Linked DNA regions of Homo sapiens: region 2 is linked to region 1. The links come from fine-mapping of genetic effects on gene expression. Tissue or cell type: whole blood. Region 1 holds a variant in brackets; the other region holds the start of a gene. All regions are shown on one strand. Distances are between the middles of the regions. Region 1 holds the start of LOC105374748 (a long non-coding RNA gene). Region 2 holds the start of ANXA2R (annexin A2 receptor).

Evidence for each region.
Region 2: it holds the start of ANXA2R, and the variant in region 1 is fine-mapped to the expression of ANXA2R in whole blood (INTERVAL, PIP 0.96).

The regions. Positions count from the first base shown.
Region 1 is chr5:43,015,510-43,025,358 of GRCh38, reverse strand. The region is part of intron 2 of ANXA2R-OT1 (ANXA2R overlapping transcript 1); the gene reads left to right. It overlaps LOC105374748 (a long non-coding RNA gene), which reads right to left and starts at 7,214. Exons shown (of 3, transcript NR_188279.1): 1 at 6,687-7,214; 2 at 6,043-6,123; 3 at 1-1,160. RefSeq lists enhancers at 4,929-4,978, 7,046-7,185, 6,725-7,247, 7,646-7,885, 9,672-9,721. The variant A/TGTCAGAAAAATGTGTTGA (reference allele first, on the strand shown) is at 5,397.
Region 2 is chr5:43,036,940-43,047,010 of GRCh38, reverse strand. ANXA2R (annexin A2 receptor) reads left to right here and starts at 6,692. Exons shown (of 1, transcript NM_001014279.3): 1 at 6,692-7,640. The coding sequence starts at 6,965. The coding sequence ends at 7,546. The region is part of intron 2 of ANXA2R-OT1 (ANXA2R overlapping transcript 1); the gene reads left to right. ANXA2R-AS1 (ANXA2R antisense RNA 1) reads right to left here and starts at 4,877. Exons shown (of 2, transcript NR_015447.1): 1 at 3,444-4,877; 2 at 1,743-2,568. RefSeq lists enhancers at 2,195-2,694, 3,414-3,463, 3,271-3,806, 3,834-4,033, 4,114-4,323 and 7 more and a silencer at 6,429-6,698.

The sequences.
Region 1 (9,849 bases):
GGCGGCCAGTTCAGAGACCTACCCCTAGGTGCGCATTCTCTTTCTCAGGGACGGAATTCAGCGATATTTCTCCCATTTGCTTTTGAAAGAAGAGAAATATGGCTCTGTTCTGCCCGGCTCACCGGCGGTCAGAGTTTAAGGTTATCTCTCTTATTCCCTGAACAATTGCTGTTACCCTGTTCTTTTTTCAGGGTGCCCACATTTCATATTGCTCAAACACACATGCTGTACAATTTGTGTACTTAACGCAATTATTACAGGGTCCTGAGATGATATACATCCTCCTCAACTGACAAGATTAAGAGATTAAAGTAAAGACAGGCATAGGAAATCACAAGGGTATTGATTGGGGAAGTGATAAGTGTCCATGAAATCTTTACAATTTATGTTTAGAGATTGCAGTAAAGACAGGCATAAGAAATTACAAAAGTATTAATTTGGGGAGCTAATAAATGTCCATAAAATCTTCATAATCCACGTTCTTCTTTCATGGCTTCAGCCGGTCCCTCCGTTTGGGGTCCCTGACTTCCCACAACAGGTCATTGTAAAAAATAAGTCATTCATTTAGTTAAGCAGTAACTCAAAGTTTTCAAAAACTAAAAGCCAAAACCTTTCACTCTTTGAGACTTGCTTTCCCAAACAATAAGAGCTAATAAAGACAGCATGAAGCCAATCAAATCTTTCTCAGATATTATAGACAAATCTAATAAATTTTAATCATCTTGACCATAAGATACAACTTTTGTAAACCTTTTCATAATCTTTCATAATTTTTTTAATAAGAATGGGTTAATGATCCATGAAAACATTGTTAATCTTACATGGGGTCCCACATGCTGGTCTTGCATCAGTGTTCCTTAGATATTCACGTTTACTTTATAGGCTGGCTGTGGTGGCTCGCACCTGTAAACTCAGCACTTTGGGCGGTCTAGGCAGGCAGACTGCTTGAGCTCAGGAGTTTGAGACCAGCCTGGGCAACATGGCGAAACACGGTGTCTACAAAAAATACAAAAATTAGCCATGCGTGTTGGTGCACATCTATAGTCCCAGCTTCTTAGGAGGCTGAGGTGGTAGGATCACTTGAGCCTGGGAGGTGGAGGTTGCAGTGAGCTAGGACTATGCCACTGTACTCCAGCCTGGGTGACAGATCTAGACCTTATCTGGAAAAAAAAAAAAAACTCTTTAAATTAAATTATCTATAAATTATACAGAAACTGAACTAATTTTATCTGTTAAAATAGGTCCTTACAAGCTTACACACCCACTTCTTCTTCAATAGTCCCTGGGACTAGAGGGTTTGAATAGTCTTAATTTCTGGCGCCATGTCTCATGACTGCAGCTTATTCTGATTTTCATCTTCTCCTAGATCTGAAGATGAGGCTTCAATTGCTCTCAATTTAGCGGGAGTTAGTGACCTTTTTAGACTCAGGAGTCAAAGCCCTGAAAATTAGTAGCACAAGAACTTTAAAAGAAATACAGAAAGTTACATGGATATAATAACCTTAATTAACCTTAATTTTTTTAAATCTCAGTTTTCTTTTCTTTTTCTTTTCTTTTTTTTTGAGACAGAGTCGCACACTGTCACCCAGGCTGGTATGCAGTGGCTCGATCTTGGCTTACTGCAACCTTCGCCTCCCAGGTTCAAGTGATTCTCTTGCCTCAGCCTCCCTAGTAGCTAGGATTACAGGCACCCGCCACCACTTCTGGCTAATTTTTTGTATTTTTAGTAGAGCTGGGTTTCACTGTGTTGGCCAGGCTGGTCTTGAACTCCTGACCTCGTGATATGCCTGCCTCAGCCTCCTTAAATCTCAGTTTTTCTGAGCAAATAAAAACCTAGTAATGACATAGGAATTATTTTGATAAAATGTAAAATATGTTATTCTCAGGCTGGCTACCAAAAGGCAAAAAAGGATGTGCTTTTCCATATGGGATTCCATTTAGACAACCTTCAAGTCAAAACTAATGAAAAGGGCACTTGAATTAATTAGACATAGGAAGAGTGTGTCCCAGGACATAAGTGAAGTTTTTTGGTTTCATAGAACAATTTAGATATATTTTAAAAAGTCAAGAGCACAGAATGTTATATTGGAAGAATACATTTCGTTTTGATCCTAAAGATGAAGTGTTTTTTAGCATCAGACCACAACAACAGTTAAAACCTAAGGAAAAAAGTTACAGGAGCTGACAAAAAAGTTGAAGGGAAAGTTATTATCTCAGGCCTTAAAAAGGAGAGAGGCCTGGCGCAGTGGCTCAAGCCTGTAATCCCGGCACTTTGGGAGGCTGAGGCGGGCAGATCACGAAGTTAAGAGATGGAGACCACCCTGACCAACATGGTGAAACGCCATCTTTACTAAAAATACAAAAATTAGCTGGGCGTGGTGGTGTGCACCTGTAGTCCCAGCTACTTGGGAGGCTGAGGCAGGAGAATCGCTTGAACCTGGGAGGTGGAGGTTGCAGTGAGCCTAGATCTCACCACTGCACTCCAGCATGGTGACAGAGCAAGACTCCGTCTTAAAAAAAAGACAGAAAATAATAATAATAATAATAAATAAATAATAGAGAGAAAGCTGAAAACATTGAGATGCAATAAAAGTTGAAAATTTGGGTAAATTAAAATATAACTTATTAAGAGTAAATAATATTTTACAAAAATGTTGTTCTAACCAAGTCTTTTGAGTATTAATGTATTTTTTTGTATCAAAGCCCAATCTCTAGAAAGACTGTTGTAATTTCCTTTTATTTATAGCCAACTAGATAACATAATTTTTTTTTTTTTTGAGATGGAGTCTTGCTCTGTTGCCCAGGCTGGAGTGCAGTGGTGCGATATCAGCTCACTGCAAGCTCCACCTCCCAGGTTCACGCCATTCTCCTGCCTCAGCCTCCCAAGTAGCTGGGACTACAGGTGCCCACTACCACGCCCTGCTAATTTTTGTGTTTTTAGTAGAGACGGGGTTTCACCATGTTAGCTAGAATGGTCTCGATCTCCTGATCTCGTGATCCATCTTCTTGGCCTCCCAAAGTGCTGGGATTACAGGCGTGAGCCACTGTGCCTGGCCTAATTTTTGTATTTTTGTCAGAGACGGGGTTTCACCATATTGGCCAGACTGGTCTTGAACTCCTGATCTCAAATGATCTGCCCCCCTTAGCATCCCAAAATGCTGGGATTACAGACCACCACACCTGGCCTATCTCTCTCTCTTTTTTCTGGTTTCTTTTATCTTGTTTCACAAATAATCTGTGAATTAGACAAAACTATTTTCCTTTTAATAAGAACACTTTTTTTGGAAAAATGTTTTCCTACAATTTTTTAAAAATTGGACATGACCTGGACATTTAATGACTATTATTTAATTTAACTTTAAGATTCTAAATTGTATGTTTACTTATAAGCATTTATTCCATTACATTTACCTAACTAATTTATTTTTTAAAATAGTTTACCTAGATTACTTATAAAATCTGTGATATTAGACATAGCTAGCTATCATTTAAAGTCATGAAACCAGCTTTGCAAAATTTTAACAGTGAGAAAATATTGACAGTGACAGAGACCTGACCTAACGAACTCCATCTTGCCTTTAACCTCCAAACAGCCCTTGATCTGGGCATGGGCCAACCTAACTTAGGGAGAAATTTAGTTTATAGTTTATATGATAATAGCCCTTCCCAAAACTAAACCATCTTTGTAAAGCTGATGAAAGCCCACCAGGTTAGGAGGATGAGAAGGGCCTGATTTCTGCTAAGATGTGGGCATAGTTAAAGGATTACCAGCCTTTATTCCAGAGGTCACAAGATTTGCAACTTCCCTAATTACTAGAACCTAGGTTTGGCTTTTTGAGATGACTTTTCAGACTTTGATGGCCCCAACAGCATCAGCCACTCCTCTGTGGCCGCCACTCAAGAAATGGACTGAGTGCAGGAGGACTGTTTTCCACACCCCTGTGATTGTTCCTCAGCTGAGCAGCAGCACCCTTCTGCCAAACTATCCTTGAAAAACCTTGGCTTCTGAATTTTCTGGGAGGCTGATTTGAGTAATAATAAAATTCAGGTCTCCAATTTAGCCAACTCTGCCCATATTAAACTCTTTATTGCAATTCGCTGTCTTGACAAATCAACTCTATCTGGGCAACAGGCAAAATGAACATATGGGCCAGTTACAGTTATGTCCCTGTCAACCATTATTATAGACTGTGAATATCAGGTGTTTACCTAAGTAAGAACCTTAAGGTTAAATAAATGGATTTTTCTCTTCTGTCAGTAACCCAAGATTTAGCTGTTTTCTTTAAACCAATGATATTAAATGCCTTATTTACCAAAATTACATGAACAAAGATAATTCTGTTTGGGGTTGCATTTATAGATTTATAACCTTCATGCCAAATTTTCACGCCTTATAATATCTAGCAGAGATAAATCAGAAACCGCTGACCAATAAATCTAAACAATAATGTATATTGACAATTCTGAAGACATTTCTAATTTTATTTTACTGATAATTTTAAATGCAGCTTATTTGTCAAAGATTTACTTAAATCAAGTGAACCTGAAAAATCATTTGGGCTTAAAGTTTCTATTTTTCTGATAAAGTATTTAATTGAAGCCACTAACAAGGGCTGGAAAGCAGTCCCAAATTACAGCTGTCCAATGAGTACTCTCCCAGTACTGGATAAAAAGGGAGAGGCCACCGCCCACAACCTTCTGAACCCAGAGCAGGTGGAGGCTGGGGCTTTGGCGCCACCTCTGCGGAATCCCAAGCCCCCTTCGCACAGCCAAGAAAACGTTGCTCCATCGCTTAAGCCTTAGAGCAGGACACAAGCGTTTGTGCTGATCAACGAGGCAGAGCCTTCAGCACTCCCATTAGCCTGGACATTTATGCTTTCCGGAGGCCGTGGGCGGAGGCAAGCCAGGTATTATGAAACTCAATAGTAATGAATGCACAAAAATTAGTAGTCAAAAGAAAAACGATAACATTTTAGAGATTACATAGAACCAAAACAAACTGTAATTCCGACAGATAAACATAGCAAGAAAAGAAACCGAAATAAAACAGACACTAAGCAAACCTTGCAGAGAACTAGCTTTACAGATCGCAGCGCTTCAAGGGCCACGAACCATCTGTTCCAGGAAATGAGCATTACTGCCACCTGAAAACTGTCCGCTAGGGCTCTGAGCTACTTAACGACCGAAAGAGAAACTGGCGGCGCTGGGACTCAGCAAGCGCCGGCACCTAGCGAATAGTGCTGGTGTTGCCAAAAAATACCTGTTTTGGTGCCATAAGTGGTGCTGCCAGAGAGAAACCGTGCTCTTGGGAAACAGCGGTGCTTCCACGCCTAAACATCCTCTTCGGAGGAATGAACCCACTCCGTTTAAATGTGTTGTGTCAGAAAAATGTGTTG[A/TGTCAGAAAAATGTGTTGA]GACATTTTAATGTTTTAATCCTCTTAATGTGTTTAATCCGCTTGCAGTATTTTAACCCGTTTTAATGTGTTGTGACAGAAAAAGCGCCAGCTAACGGTGCTATGAAATTACTAGTGCGTACAGCGGCTCCGTGCAATCACCGTTCTGCACAGTAAAACATGGTTTAGGAAGTTCTTTAGCAGATACTAGCGGTGCGAGAACCAAGAAAGTGACAGCACAGAGAACATAAGGACCTGGCGAATGGGAAACGTCACACTGGGCGCTAAGAACGGTGCCGTAACTGAGAAAACGCTAGTCGGCTCTACTGGCAAAAGCGCTGATGCAAAACCATCAGCTCCGCATACGAAGGAGAGCCACCAGACACAACCTGGCACCTGACAGCAGGGAGACTGAGACCGAGCTCGGCTCCCCGGATCCTGAGAGAATGTAAGTAAAGAAGCAGGAAGCTGAGACGCTCAAAATTAGTAGAAAAAAAATACATAACATTTAAATAAAATCAAAATTAAAAAAATAAAGGCTAAAATGCAAGTAAACATGGAAAGCAAACACATCGGTAACATCGTTCTCAGAGCAAAAGACAAAGAGAGAATTTAAAAATAAGCAAAAATTACAGAGAACCAATCCTAGAAAGAAGAAATTACAAACCTTGCTAAAAGATGCAATCCTACAATTGTGATATCTCTGTCAGATCTAAACCGGTACATGTTACACCTAAGTCTACATTTCCTACGAAAACAAAAACAAAAACAAACAACACCAACAAAAAAAAGCAGTCACGGTTAAACCTTTTTTACTACGACTTAAAAATCGCAGTAGCTGGTCTATTCAGACTTGGTCCACAAGAGGAAAAAGTCGCGTTCGGCAGGACTTGCTATTGCCAAACGGAGCTTGGTAACCAGAAATCGCGTTTGCGGACATTTCCTGACTTCCATGGGAGTTTAAAATACACACAAGCTTAGCTAAGGTGGGACTCAATATTGCGAAAACAAACTTGGTATAAGAGCTCCCAGGCACTGCTAAACTGATCATCGGTAAACCTAAAAAAAATCGCATTCGCGGGTACCCAGATTTCTTTTTCTTTTCTTTTTTTTTTTTTTTTTTTTTTTGAGTTGGAGTCTCGCTCTGTCGCCCAAGCTGGAGTGCAGTGGCGCGATCTCGGCTCACTGCAAGCTCCGCCTCCCGGATTCACGCCATTCTCCTGCCTCAGCCTCCCGAGGAGCTGGGACTACAGGGACCCGCCACCACGCCCGGCTAATTTTTTTGTATTTTTAGTAGAGACGGGGTTTCACCGTGTTAGCCAGGATGGTCTCGATCTCCTGACCTCCTGATCCGCCCGCCTCGGCCTCCCAAAGTGCTGGGATTACAGGCGTGAGCCACCGCGCCCGGCCGGTACTCCGAAGCCCTCAGATCGGCGACCTGGGCGCTGTAGGCACCGAGAAAATACAGGCACCGAGCCAGAAGCAGTGCCGCAACCAAGAGACCTCGGCTTGGCGAAATGGCGGCGTCTGGAGCCTGCGAGTGACGCCAGCTGGTGGGGCTGTCAAGGAGAACATTCGTTACGGCGCAACCAACGGTACTGTCACCAAGAAACCGTCGTCTCTGAGAAAAAAAGAGACGTTCGGCCGCCGAGAAACTCCGTACAAGTGCTGTGACAGAAAAACCGCCGGCTCCGCGCAGCGGCAAAAGAGCCAACGGGAACGCCGGGTGCTGCGACCATGACCCCGGCACTGGAGGACGTGGGATGGAGAATGGGACACACGGAGCGAGAAGGGAAACGTTTCGTGCAGACCAACTAGCGCCGCCGCCACCGGAAAACTGACTCGCCAGTGCTGCCAATGAAGTGCGTGTGAGAAACCGATGACTGGTGGGAGGAGCAGCGCTGGGCGCTGGACCCGCGAGTGTGAGAATCTGGCGGCGCTAGGACCCTTCAGGCGCGGGCACGAGGCGAAACCCAGCGCTGTTGCCAAAGACAAATGCGCGTTCTTTTGGGCGCCATCAGCGGTGCAGCCAGTGATCACTCCCAGGCTCTGAGAAACTAGAGATGTCAGCCACAAACCCTCCGTTCAGGGAAAGTTTGCGGCGCCGTGACGGATCGACTGGCACTGGGTGCAACATTGTCTTGTGGCCTAGAGACTAGAATATAAAAACAAAAACCAAATACAAAACTGCTGCTGGCATTACTCCTACTCTCCCCCCTCAAGTCAGTGGCTTCAGGCTTAAGAAAACCTGTATTTTTCTTGGCTGTGCCATAATCCGTAATTACCGAGGCCCCCAGCGACCCACCCAGTGTGATTCGCAGAGGGAAAGGAGCTGGAATAAGGACCGTGAATGGGGCGGATGTGGCTCGTCCTGGGAGAGAGCTAAAGCTTATGCTGGTCGCAAACAGCATTACATTGCAGGAAACTGCTCTTCCAATGGCCGTGGCTGGGTCCTTCCACACCATCCCTCTGCCCTAGACCTTTGTCCCCGTTCAGAGCCATCAGAGATTCTAGGAGAGCTGTCGACAACCGCATCTCTTCGGAACTTGGAAACTCTAGGTTCAAGATCTCCGTGGAGAATGAAAGGCACAGTCGCCTGACCCGGGCATCAGGCTTGCCCCGCACATCAAGTCCCTCCCCTACTGGATGGAACTCTGTGGCAATCGCTCCTTATTCTGATGGTTCACTCTGTCAGATATCCTCGATATTTGGGGATAGTAGTTCAAAAACAGCCGGGGAGGAAAATGGGCTGAAAGATTCCAGCGTTGGATGTAGAATTGACAGCGAGACATACACCTCCTCTCTAAGCCCAGAGAAAAGCTCAAGTTGTGGTTCTCTGTCTCTAGCAGCATGATCTTCAAAATGCATCATTGATTTCTATCTTCTGGGAAATGCAATGCAGGTGAACTTGTAAGTGCTCAAATCCTCCATCTCCTCACTTTTCAGACTGAGGCCTTTTTTTTTTTAAATCTGAGAAGAAATATGGGACTGCCACTGCTCAGTAGGAAAATGTCCTTTCCCACAAGCATTTATATTTTAATAAAAATCTGCACTTTGTGAGTTGAGCCCCCTCAAAGAGACCTACAAACCCTGCCACAAATATCTCCAACCACACTCATCATTTCCGATTTTCATCACTGCTGCTCCTGTGCAAACCAAACTATCCTTTCCCTGGGGCATCCTAGGTAGAGGCCATGCCAGGACAAAGGCAGAGATATGCCTGCCTGGTAAGGAAATCCATTTTGGCCTTGTAATTCTCACCCTCTCCCAAGATGTTTGCCTCAATATCTCCTTCCCACCTTACCCCGTCTTCAGCTAGCCAAAACATTCCCTGGTATTTGAGGCCCTTCCAATTTCCTCCTGGTTTTGTGGGTGGGAGAATAAAGAAAAAACTGCACTGTTCCCACCCACATAGTTACAGCCACTTTATCAAACGGAAGAGCAGTCTGGAGCCATTGCAAAACAAAATACCTGCCACAACTCCTCTCTTCTCATTTCGACTCCAGCTTTTCATCTTAGCAAAAAAGTTGCAATCAGCACCCCCTAGACGGAAGGAATATCCTGTCTTAATGGGAGTCCATAGGAGGCTGCAGGCTGCTCCCCTACAGAGACTAACATCAAGGTAGTTGCAGAATTCAGATTCTAATTACAGTGTGGTTGGAGGCGGGGTGGATTCCAGGGAGGTCAGGAAGAGGTAAAGTACAGAATTGAGCTCCTTGGGAGGAGGTCATAGGAACTTTGCAGTATGAAAATGGCTAGAGATTGGGTAGAATTGAGCAGGCTGGCAATGGCAGTTTTGTGTGGGTGGTAGGACCTAGGATTCAAACTTGAGGGCAAATTGTGGAGCACATACGACAAATGATGTAGAGCCTTTCCTATTTCCCTTCCTGCTGTGTCATCCGAAACAATAAATAATAAAGAATTAACAAAGACTGATATTTTTGTTCAATTTCATGAAGAAAAATCTCATCAAACTAAGATAACTATAATGACAAATCTTGTTAGAATATTATTAACCAAATGAAAGTGACACAAAACAGAAAAACGGTGGGAGGTGGGAGGGCCAAGAAAGAAAAAGTCCCCAACACTCAGGTGGTGTGTACAGGTGAATCTTCTGGTCAGTTGGTATGTTGCAGAAAGCTGGGCAACTAATAAATTAGGAGGCAGGAATTCATATGAATACTTTCCTGATACAGAGAAACTCTTGGTTTTAACAATCTACTTCTTTGTCAGGTATTGGTTCTTGATTTTAGGCTCAGAAAAGATGGTAACAGTTATAACTGTAGTAGAGCAGGTAAAAACAAAGATCATGCAGGAGTCTAGACAGAAAGTAAAAGGCAAAAATGTCCCAGGGTAAGTAATCTAGAGTAAGAAAGTGAAGAATTCTGCTTGGTGCCAACGGAGGGCTCCACCATGCCTCTGGTTCACCTACAAAAAATGAACCATTTGCTGTTGGTCTCTGGGATTGAAGATT
Region 2 (10,071 bases), 22 kb before region 1:
TCCAGAATAATCAACTCAGAACTTAGGTTGCTATCTTGAACTGGAGTGTTAGGGAGAAGGGACACAGTAAAATCACACACACACACACACACACACACACACACACACACACTACATTAGAAGATGAGCCTTAAATTTGCACCAAGAGTTGATTTCTTAACATTGAATGCTAAAATTACATTTATCTATTCAGCCACAGACAGAGCTATATGCACTCCAACTTCCCTAAGTGAGGCTGTGCATCTACAAAATGGAGAGAACTAAGAAGAAAGCCCAGCACAAAGCATGTGCTCACCACATTTTTCGGTTGAGAATGAAACAAGATAAAGCACAAAATATAGTTGGTATGGTGTCTGTCACAAATAATGATTTTCATGCCACAAACCACACAATATGTGAGAAGAACTAAAAGGGGAGGCAAGAAGCTGAAAGTGTTTATGAGAAATTGCACCTTACAGATACTGGAGGAGTGGGGAAGATGATTTTCCCACTTACCCAACCATTTCAGTGTATTGAGCTATGAAAAAAACAAATACAATCAAAAAATAGGTTTCAAAAAATTACAACTTGGCTTGGCATGGTGGCTCATGCCTGTAATCCTGGCACTTTGGGAGGCCGAGGTGGGTGGATCACATGAGATCAGGAGTTCAAGGCTAGCCTGGCCAACATGGTGAAACCCCGTTTCTTCTAAAAATACAAAAATTACCCGGGTGTTGTGGCAGGAGCCAGTGGTCCCAGCTACTCTGGAGGCTGAGGCACAAGAATGGCTTGAACCTCGGAAGCAGAGGTTACAGTGAACTGAGATCGTGCCACTGCATTCCAGCCTGGGTGACAGAGCAAGATTCTGTCTCAAAAATAAATAAATAAGTGAACAAAATAAAAATAATTTAAAAAATAAAGAATTACAACTCTAATCTCTATGCTATTTTCAAGACATAAACAAACTAAAAAATGGCACTAAAGATTGAAAATAAAGGAGTGGATACCTGAATTTAATCAGTTCTAGGGTAAACATTTTTCTCATTTAGTATCTCTGAAATATGTATATATTTTTAAATGGGTGGCCTCTTACCATTGGGACACAGTATAATTTGCAGCATTTTCCTCTGTTAATGGTATATGTAATAATGTCTCAGGTGACCCCTTCTTACAGAGCTTGTAATCCCAGTTATGTTATTTTTTATTTTATTTTATTTTCTGAGACAACGTCTCCCTCTGTCACCCAGACTGAACTGCAGTGATGCGGTCCCAGATCACCATTCACTGCAGCCTGCATCTCTAGGGCTCAAGAGATCCTCCCACTTCGGCTTCCCGAGTAGCTGGGACTACAGGCACTCGAGACCAAATCCGACTAATTTTTCAATTTTTTTTTTCTTTTTTTGGTAGAGGCAGGATCTCACTTTGTGCTTAGGGTGGTATTGAACTTCTGGGCTAAAGAGATACTCCTGACTTAGCCTCCCAAAGTGCTAGGATTATAGCAGGGAGCTACTGCTCTGGGTCAGCTTTTCTGCTAAAATGCTTTGCTGAGGTGGAAATGAGGAGGGTGAAGCAGTGGGCGGGCATTTGTTTTACAAAGGCTCTACCTAGGCTGTACCATCTGGTGAAGTGCTTGTAACTTTTAAGGTGGAAACGATGCCATTTTTCCTTTATTCTCCCGTCTGTAAGACCAGAAGGCAATTGGAGGATCCTCAAATACCAGGGAGAAACCAGGTAGCAGAAGAAGTAGTATGGTGGGAGGGGAAGATCAAAGCAAACGCCTGGGGAGTGAGTGACAATTGCGACCCCAAATTGGGTCTCCTGACTTGTCAAGGCCCTTCTCTGGGCTCCTCTGCACCTGTCCTCTGCCCAGGTTGATCCAGAAAAGGATGGAATTGGTTGCATGGTGTTTTCAGGATCCGATTGGGAGATGATGCGTTCGCGTGGGAACGCTCCTGGTAGGGTCTGTAAGCCTCTTAGGGGGATTACATCTGGATGTATAATTTTTTTTGGGAAATGTGAAAGCTTATGGGAAAAATACGTTTTACTTCCAAGCAGTGGCAGTTCCTTATTTCCTATGAGGAAGGAGTTTATAGCCCCACTCTTGACTGAAAAGTGTGAGAGACAATTCAAGCGCTTGAAAATTCACCTGTTTTGCATTTCCGGAAAGACAGAGAAAGCGTCAGTGATCCATTTCACAGATCAAGGGTATAGGAAAGTGGATGGCACTTTGAGATGTTCATTAGGTTTGGAGAGGGAGCAGACATCTGCCAGCAATCCCACCTCTTGTGCTGGAGTCTTGCAGTTCATTTTTCTCTCCTGCCCTCTTCCAAATCCTATGTCCAATATCAAGGATATCTGACAGTTAACCATCAGAATCAACGAGCGTTCCCACAGAGTTCCGTCCTGCAGGAGAGGTACCGGGACAGGGGCGGGAGACCTGAAGCTGCGATCAGAAAACGCTGTGCCTTTTACGCTCCTAAGGAACCTTAGACCGAGAGTTTCAAGTTTCAAAGGCAAGCAGTTGTTGGCCCCTCCTGTAGGATCCTGTGGGCTCTGGACCGGGAAGAGAGCCTGGCAGCGAGGGGTGACCTGGAAAAGCCCAGTCACAGAGGGTGGATGGCTGTTTCCTGCGTAGGAAGCTGTTGGCGACCAGAATGGTTTATACTTTGTTCCTGGGACCAACAGGATCTGCTTGGTTCTCGGCGCATAAGCCCACTACTCTCCCCCTGCGTAATGCACTGGGTGGAATGCAAGAACAATACAGACTTCCTGCGGGCCTCGGTGGCCCACGCCTGTGATCCCAGCACTTTGGGAGGCCCAGGCGGGCGAATCGCTTGAGCTCAGGAGTTCGAGACCAGCCTGGGCAACATAGCGAGACCGCCGTCACTAATATATATATATTTATATATATATATTTCATATATAATATATATTTTATATATAATATATATTTTATATATAATATATATTTTATATATAATATATATTTTATATTTTATATACTATATAAAATATATTATATATAATATATTATATATAATATATTATATATCTTATATATTATATATTATATATAATATATTTTATATATTATATACTATATTTTATATATTTTATATATTATATATAATATATTATATATTATATATTATATATAATATATTATATATATTATATATAATATATAATATATAATATATTATATATATTATATATAATATATTTTATATATAATATATATATTATATATTATATATATATTATATAATATATATATTATATAATATATATATTATATATAATATATAAATAAATATATATTTATATATTTTATATAATATATAAAAATATATATTTATATTTATATATTTATTTATATTATATATAAATATAAAATATATATTTTAATATATATATTTATATATATAAATATATATAAATTAGACGGGGGTGGTAGCACTCACCTGTGGTCTCGGCTACTCTAGAGGCTGAAGCGGGAGGATCGCTGGATCCCAGGAAGTCGAGGCTGCACTGAGCCAAGATGACACCACTGCACCAGCCTAGGCGACAGAGGAAAAAAGAAAAGAAAAAGACATCAGACTTCCCTAAGCCCGTGGGGGACAGAGTGGGTAGAGCCAGTAGCACTTTGGTGGCACCGAGCGCGCAGTTGGTCGGTCGCTGCACCGTTCCTTTCCCAGCGCCGGCTGTTTCTCACTGGCAACGCCACGCCTTTGTCAGCGTTATCGGACGCTCTCTGGCGGCAACCTTCTCACGGCCAAAAATTATCTTTTGCAACTGCACAGACATTTGCTACGGGCAGCTGATCGCTGGGTCCCAGCGCCGCTGGTTTCACAATTTCGCGGGTGCCCCCCACCATCCCCAGCCCGCAGCATAATCGGTGAAGGGAGCCTGCGGTTTCTCCGCCGCGCCTTCGCCCGTTGCGTCCTGCGAAGCCAGTGGAATCGGTGGTCACAAGGTTGGTTTCACCAAGTCGGGCGTTTCTTGGCACTGGCACCGCTCTGCGCTTTTGCTGGCCCAGGCCGGTCTCAGCACCGTTAGGTGCTCTCTAAAGGCGACTGTCTGTCGTGGTTAGGAAAGCTGCTATGGGACGACAGTTTTTTAGAAGTTTCTAGTCTAGCCCAGCTGGCGGTTTCTGGATCGCAGAACCACTGATTGCGCGGAGCTGGATGTACTTCTGTGGCCGCGCATGTTTCTCTGTGGTATCCCTACGGCTGTCGTCGAAATCGCGGTGTTTCTCTGGCCCCACCGCCACGTGGGCAACTTCTTCAGTGGCTGCGGGGTTCTCTCCACTGAGTTGCTGGTTTTGATCCACGCTTTCTCCCAGAGAGCAGACGAGACACTTTTCTGTTTGTGTCAACTGCTAGTCGTGCTGTGCACAGTTTCCTCGTCTCGGTGCGGGGCTTTCTCCATCCGAGGCCCTCTAGTGCCGGCTTCGCGGTCGCAGCACCCGGCGTTTCCGTTGGCTCTTTCGCCAGCGGCGCGAAGCCGGCGGTTTTGCTGTCACAGCACTTGCTGCACGGAGTTTCTCGGTAGCCGAACTTCTCTTTTTTTCTCAGAGTCGACGGTTTCTTGGTGACGGCACCGCTGGTTGCGCCAAAACAAATGTTGTCCTTGACAACCCCGCCGGCTGCATTCCCTTTCAGGCTCCTGGCACCGCCATTTCGGCGAGCCGTGGTCTCTTGTTCACAGCTCTGTGCCTCCATTTCTCGGTGGCGGCAGCCCTCAGGCCGCGGATCTGAGAGATTTAAAGTCGCAGCTGCCCCCGTTGCGCCGAGTCTGGCGTTGCCGGATGGGTGCTGCAGGGCTGGGCGGGGGGAGCCCGACGCTCCTTGGAGCCGGTGACAGGGGAGCTGCAGGGGCACAGTCTCTTCCCAGCGCCGCCGCACGGGTTCCGGCTCGGCCTCCAGAACGCAGTCCTGTGGCGGCGCCGCCGGCGTCTCTGTCGCAGGACCCCACGGTTTCGCGCGTCGTTGGCTTCTTAGTCCTAGCAAGTTTCGATTTCGCGGTGCCTGGGATTTCCACCCTCTGTCCAAGTAGGGGAATAGCCAAAATGTATTTTCTCAGCCCAAGCAAGTCCTGACTTAAGACAAACACCGGTCTAGCCCTGGCTGCGATATCTAGGCCGTAGGAACTCACCCGTTTCCCCATGCGAAGGCGAAGTTACCCTGTGACTCGTTGGTCAGCAGCTCCGGGTTTCCAGTGGCCTCGGATTTCTAATCATAACAACCATGGGGTCAGCCTAGCCTCAAGTTTCTTAGTCCTAGCAAGTTCCGGTTTCCTACTGGTAAGACTTGCTTTAGCTGCGCAGGAAATGTTTAACTCCTGTGGAAATCTGGGTACCAGCGAATGCTTTTTTTTTTTTTTTAAAGGTTTAGCGATGACCAGTTTAGCAGTGTTGGGAGCTCTTATACCAAGTTTGGTTTCGCAATATCGAGTCCTGTCTTAGCTATGCTTGTGTGTTTTTAAAACTCCCGTGGAAGTCAGGAAATGCCGGCGATCGCGATGTCTCAGTTTTACCAAGCTCCCTTTGACAATAGCAAGTCCTGCCCATCGAGACTTTTTCCTCTTGTAGACCAAATCGGGATGTACCAGCTACTACGATTTTTTAGACGTAGCTAAACACGTTTAACCGTGGATATTTTTGTTTTTTTTCTCGTAGGAAATTATGACAGGAGCAACCTGCAGGGGTTTAGATCTGACAGAAATATTCTAATGGTAGGCATTGCATCGCTTAGCCATATTTGTAATTTCTTCTTTGTAGGGTTGGTTCTCTGTAACTTTTGCTTACCTTAAAATTATTTTTGTGTCTTGCTCTGAGGACAATGTTACCGATGTGTTTTTCATTTTTACTTGCATTTCAGACTTTCATTATTTTAAATTATGTATTTTTTTTTTCTTCTAATTTTGAGCGTCTCAGATTCGTGCTTCTTGACTTTCATTCTCTCAGGAGCCGGGGAGCCGAGCTCGGTCTTAGCCTCGCTGGTATCAGGTTCCGGGTTCTGTCTGGAGGCTCCGCTTCCTATGCAGAGCTGGCGGTTTTGTATCAGCACGTTTGCCAGTGGCGCCCACTGGGCGTTTTCTCAGTTGCTGCACCCAACGTGACATTTCCCGTTCGCGGGGTCCTTAGGTTCTCAGTGCTGTCACTTTTTCGCTCCTACAACCGCTAGTATCTCCTAGGAACTTCCTGAACCCCGTTTTGCCGTGCAGAACGGTGATTGCACCGAGCCGCTGTTCGCACTAGTAATTGTGTGGTACCATTAGCCGGCGCTTTTTCTGTCACAACCCATTAAAACGGGTTAAAACATATTAAACCTATCAAACACATTGAACGGATTAAAACACATTAAATGCCGCAACACATTTTTCTGGTACAACACATTGAAACAGAGTTGGTTCATTCCTCCAAACAGGTTGTTTAGGTGTGGAAGCACCGCTCTTAGTTCTAAGAGCATGCTGTTTCTCTTTAGCAGCACCCTTTACGGCGCCAAAACGGATATTTGTTTGGCAATACCAGCGCTATCCGCTAGGTGCCGGCGCTTGCTAAGTTCAACGCGCCAGTTTCTCGTTTGCAAGGTGGTTAGGGCAGAGCCCTAGCAGACAGTTTTCCGGTGGCAGCAACGCTCATTTCCCGGAAACGGGTGGTTCTTGGCCCTTGCGCGCTCTTGAATACCTGCGTTCTGTAGCGCTAGTTCTCTTCAAGATTTGCTTAGTGTCATTTCATTTCGGTTTCTTTTCTCGCCATGTTTTTCTGTCGGAATTACGGTTCGTTTTGGTTCTATGTACTCTCTAAAATGTTATCGTTTTTCATTTGTCTACTAATTTTCGTGCATTTGTTACTACTGAGTTTCTTAATATCTGACTGGCCTCCGCCCACGGGCTCTGCAGAGCATAAATACTCAGGCTGATGGTAGTGCAGAGACTCTCCCTCCTTGATCAGCGCAAACGTTGGTCTGAGGCTTGAGGGATGGAGCAACATTTTCTTGGCTGTGTGAAGCGGGCTTGGGATTCCGCAGAGGTGGCGCCAGAGCCCCAGCCTCCACCTATTGTGAGTTCAGAAGATCGTGGGCCGTGGCCTCTTCCTTTGTATCCAGTACTAGGAGAGTACTCACTGGACAGCTGTGATTTGGGACTGCTTTCCAGCCCTTGCTGGCGGCTGCCCGGAGTCTACTGGCAAAACGGACTCTCTCCTGGAGTCCAGAGCACCTTGGAACCAAGTACAGCGAAGCCCACTGAGTTCAGTTGGCCGGGGACACAGAAGCAGCAAGAGGCACCCGTAGAAGAGGTGGGGCAGGCAGAGGAACCCGACAGACTCAGGCTCCAGCAGCTTCCCTGGAGCAGTCCTCTCCATCCCTGGGACAGACAGCAGGACACCGAGGTCTGTGACAGCGGGTGCCTTTTGGAACGCCGCCATCCTCCTGCCCTCCAGCCGTGGCGCCACCTCCCGGGTTTCTCAGACTGCCTGGAGTGGATTCTTCGCGTTGGTTTTGCCGCGTTCTCTGTACTCTGGGCGTGCTGTTCACGGATCTGTGGAGCTAAGCAGCCTTAGATAGCAGCAGAAGGCTTTTTGGATTCTCCTCCTTGAAAAGATTCTCAGTTACCAAACGTCTCCACCTAGAAAATAAAAATACATTAAGATGTGCTTTCATTGCTGGTTGTCAGTTTTTAAATTCTCTTTTTCCCTTATGTTTCTTTCTTGTTTCGCGTCGCTTATTACTTTCAGTTTCCTTGTATTTTAAATATTTGTATTTATTTCATTAAATATTTCATTCGTATCTGTTTTCACTTTGAGAAATCTATTTTACGATTGTAGAATTCTTAGAGTTTTTGGCAAATTTAAAATTTGTTTTTTTCCATTGTATTTTAAAATCTTATTCCTACTATTTTTCTAATTATTGCTTTTTAAATGTATTGTTTGTTTACATTTAATTTTATATCATGTCTTTTACGTTATTATAACGTCTTTTTAATTTTAATTGTTAATTTTATTTTTAACAGCGGTCTTTCTTTTTTTCAGTATATCGATTCATTGTTTTACACTCAGGAATTTTATTCACGATCATAAGACTGAGAGGTTTATCAATCTTTGCTATTTCTCGTGGAAGGACCACGCAATTACTTATATTAATACAACTTCACAGATGACCAGTTCTTAAGATTACTTATTCTGGCGGGGCAGCGTGGCTCACGGCAGTAATCCCAGCACTTTCAGCAGCGGAGGCATGCGGATTGCTTGAGCTCAGGAGTTTGAGAAAAGCCTGGGCGACAGGGTGAGGCCTGTGTCTACAAAAAATGCAAAAGTTAGCCCTGTGAGATGGTGTGCACCTGTAGTCCCAGCTGCTCCGGAGGCTGGGGTGGGCGGGTTGCTTGAGCTCAGGAGGTCGAGGCTGCGGTGAGCCGGATAGCACCAACGCCCTCCAGCAGAGCGAGAGCCTGTCTCAAAATAAATAAATAATTGAAAAGACTACTTATTCATGGGTCTCAGGGCTAGCAGTGTTTCCAGCGTCTTTTTCTTTGGAACAGTTTAGCTTGGCTTATAAGAGAACTACCAGTTACTTAATGGTACCACAACTGGGTTTAGCAATTCGGGTAGGCACAGCAGGTCCGGCTTGGCCCTGCCTGCTTTGACTGCCTTTTCGGGAGTTTTAAACCTCCTACACTCGGAATGTAGCCCTGATTGTGGTTTCTCTGCATAGCAAGTTCGGACTTAAGCGGAATAAGTATCGGCTTATTTCGCCTGCGATAAAGATGCTTAATTCTGCGTTCGAAATATTCTGAGCGAGTCCTGGGTTAGGGATTTCTTAGAGTAACAAGTGCATGCTTCGATTTTAAGTGCCCCTGTGAATGTGATTTCTTAGCTCTTGCAAGTCCATATTTGGTCGCAACCAGTACTAGCATAGCCATGCCTGCGACTCCTTAGTCCCAGTAACTTTCGGTTTCATAATAACTTACCCTGCTTTACTTATGCCTGAGTTTTAAATATAGAAGTCCGGGCACGTAGGTGAAGAAGATATTTTAGGAGTAGCAAGTAGCGGTTTAGCAGTGTCTGCAGTCCCTTAGTTAGAAGTCCTGGTGAGACCGAGCAGATACTGATATAGGCCTGACAGCGATATTACCTCTGTGAAACCACATTGTTTAGAAGTGTTTGCATTTTCTTCTTTGTAGAGTCCATTTTTCCATGTTTTGCTTAGTTTTGAATTTTCATTTGATGAATCTTCCCAAATGTATTGTTTTTATTGTGTGTGCGTGTGTTTTTCAGCTAACTTGCCCTTTAAAAAAAAATTGTTCCTAATTTTTGTTTTGCTGACCCTCAGCTTTATGCTGTCTGGTTTGCGCTGGCCTGTAATTCCCGGAACTAAATATTCTATTCTTTTGGCCTAACTGGCCTTTCGTCGATGGCATTACTGCTAGTTTTGCCGCTCTAGGTGCTCCTCGGTGTTAGCACTGCCGGTTGCTTCTGTGAGGCTTGCTAGAGCCCAGGACGCTGAGGTGCTGGGTGACCCCGTTTCGGTGCAACCACTCCGAAGGTTCTCGGTTTATCCAGCTGTGTTTTGGAACAAATGCCAATTCTTCCTGGGAGCAAGTGTCTTTCAGTCGCGTTCCTGGCTGTTTTCTTCAAAAGCAGGCGTTTCTCCTGGTAGCACCGCTTGTTGGCGACGTCGGATTCTTTTCCGTGGCAGTACTGGTCGTTTCATGGAGTGGCCGGTTTCTCACTCGCACTGTGCCGGCTGGCAGTTATTCCGTGGAGGCGCAGCTCTCAGCCGCTTCCCTTGGTTCTCGGTGTCGGCTGTCCCTGTACCTGCGTTTGTGGCGGTATTTCTGTCACAATCGAGTCTGTGTTTTTTCGATGACAACGCCATTCATTTCTCTAAAACAGGCTATGTTTGGAATTGGCAATTTTTCTTTGTCAGAGTCCTTGGTTTCGCAGAGCCTGTTGTTCCAGGTTACTGGACTGCTGTTTGCTCCGTGCTAGCAATGTTGCACCCAGTACCGTTAGGTGCTCCCTGTTGGAGTTTTGAGACAGCGTTTTGAGATAGGTGCACCAGCACTCCAGACCTGGCACCTGAAGAAAGC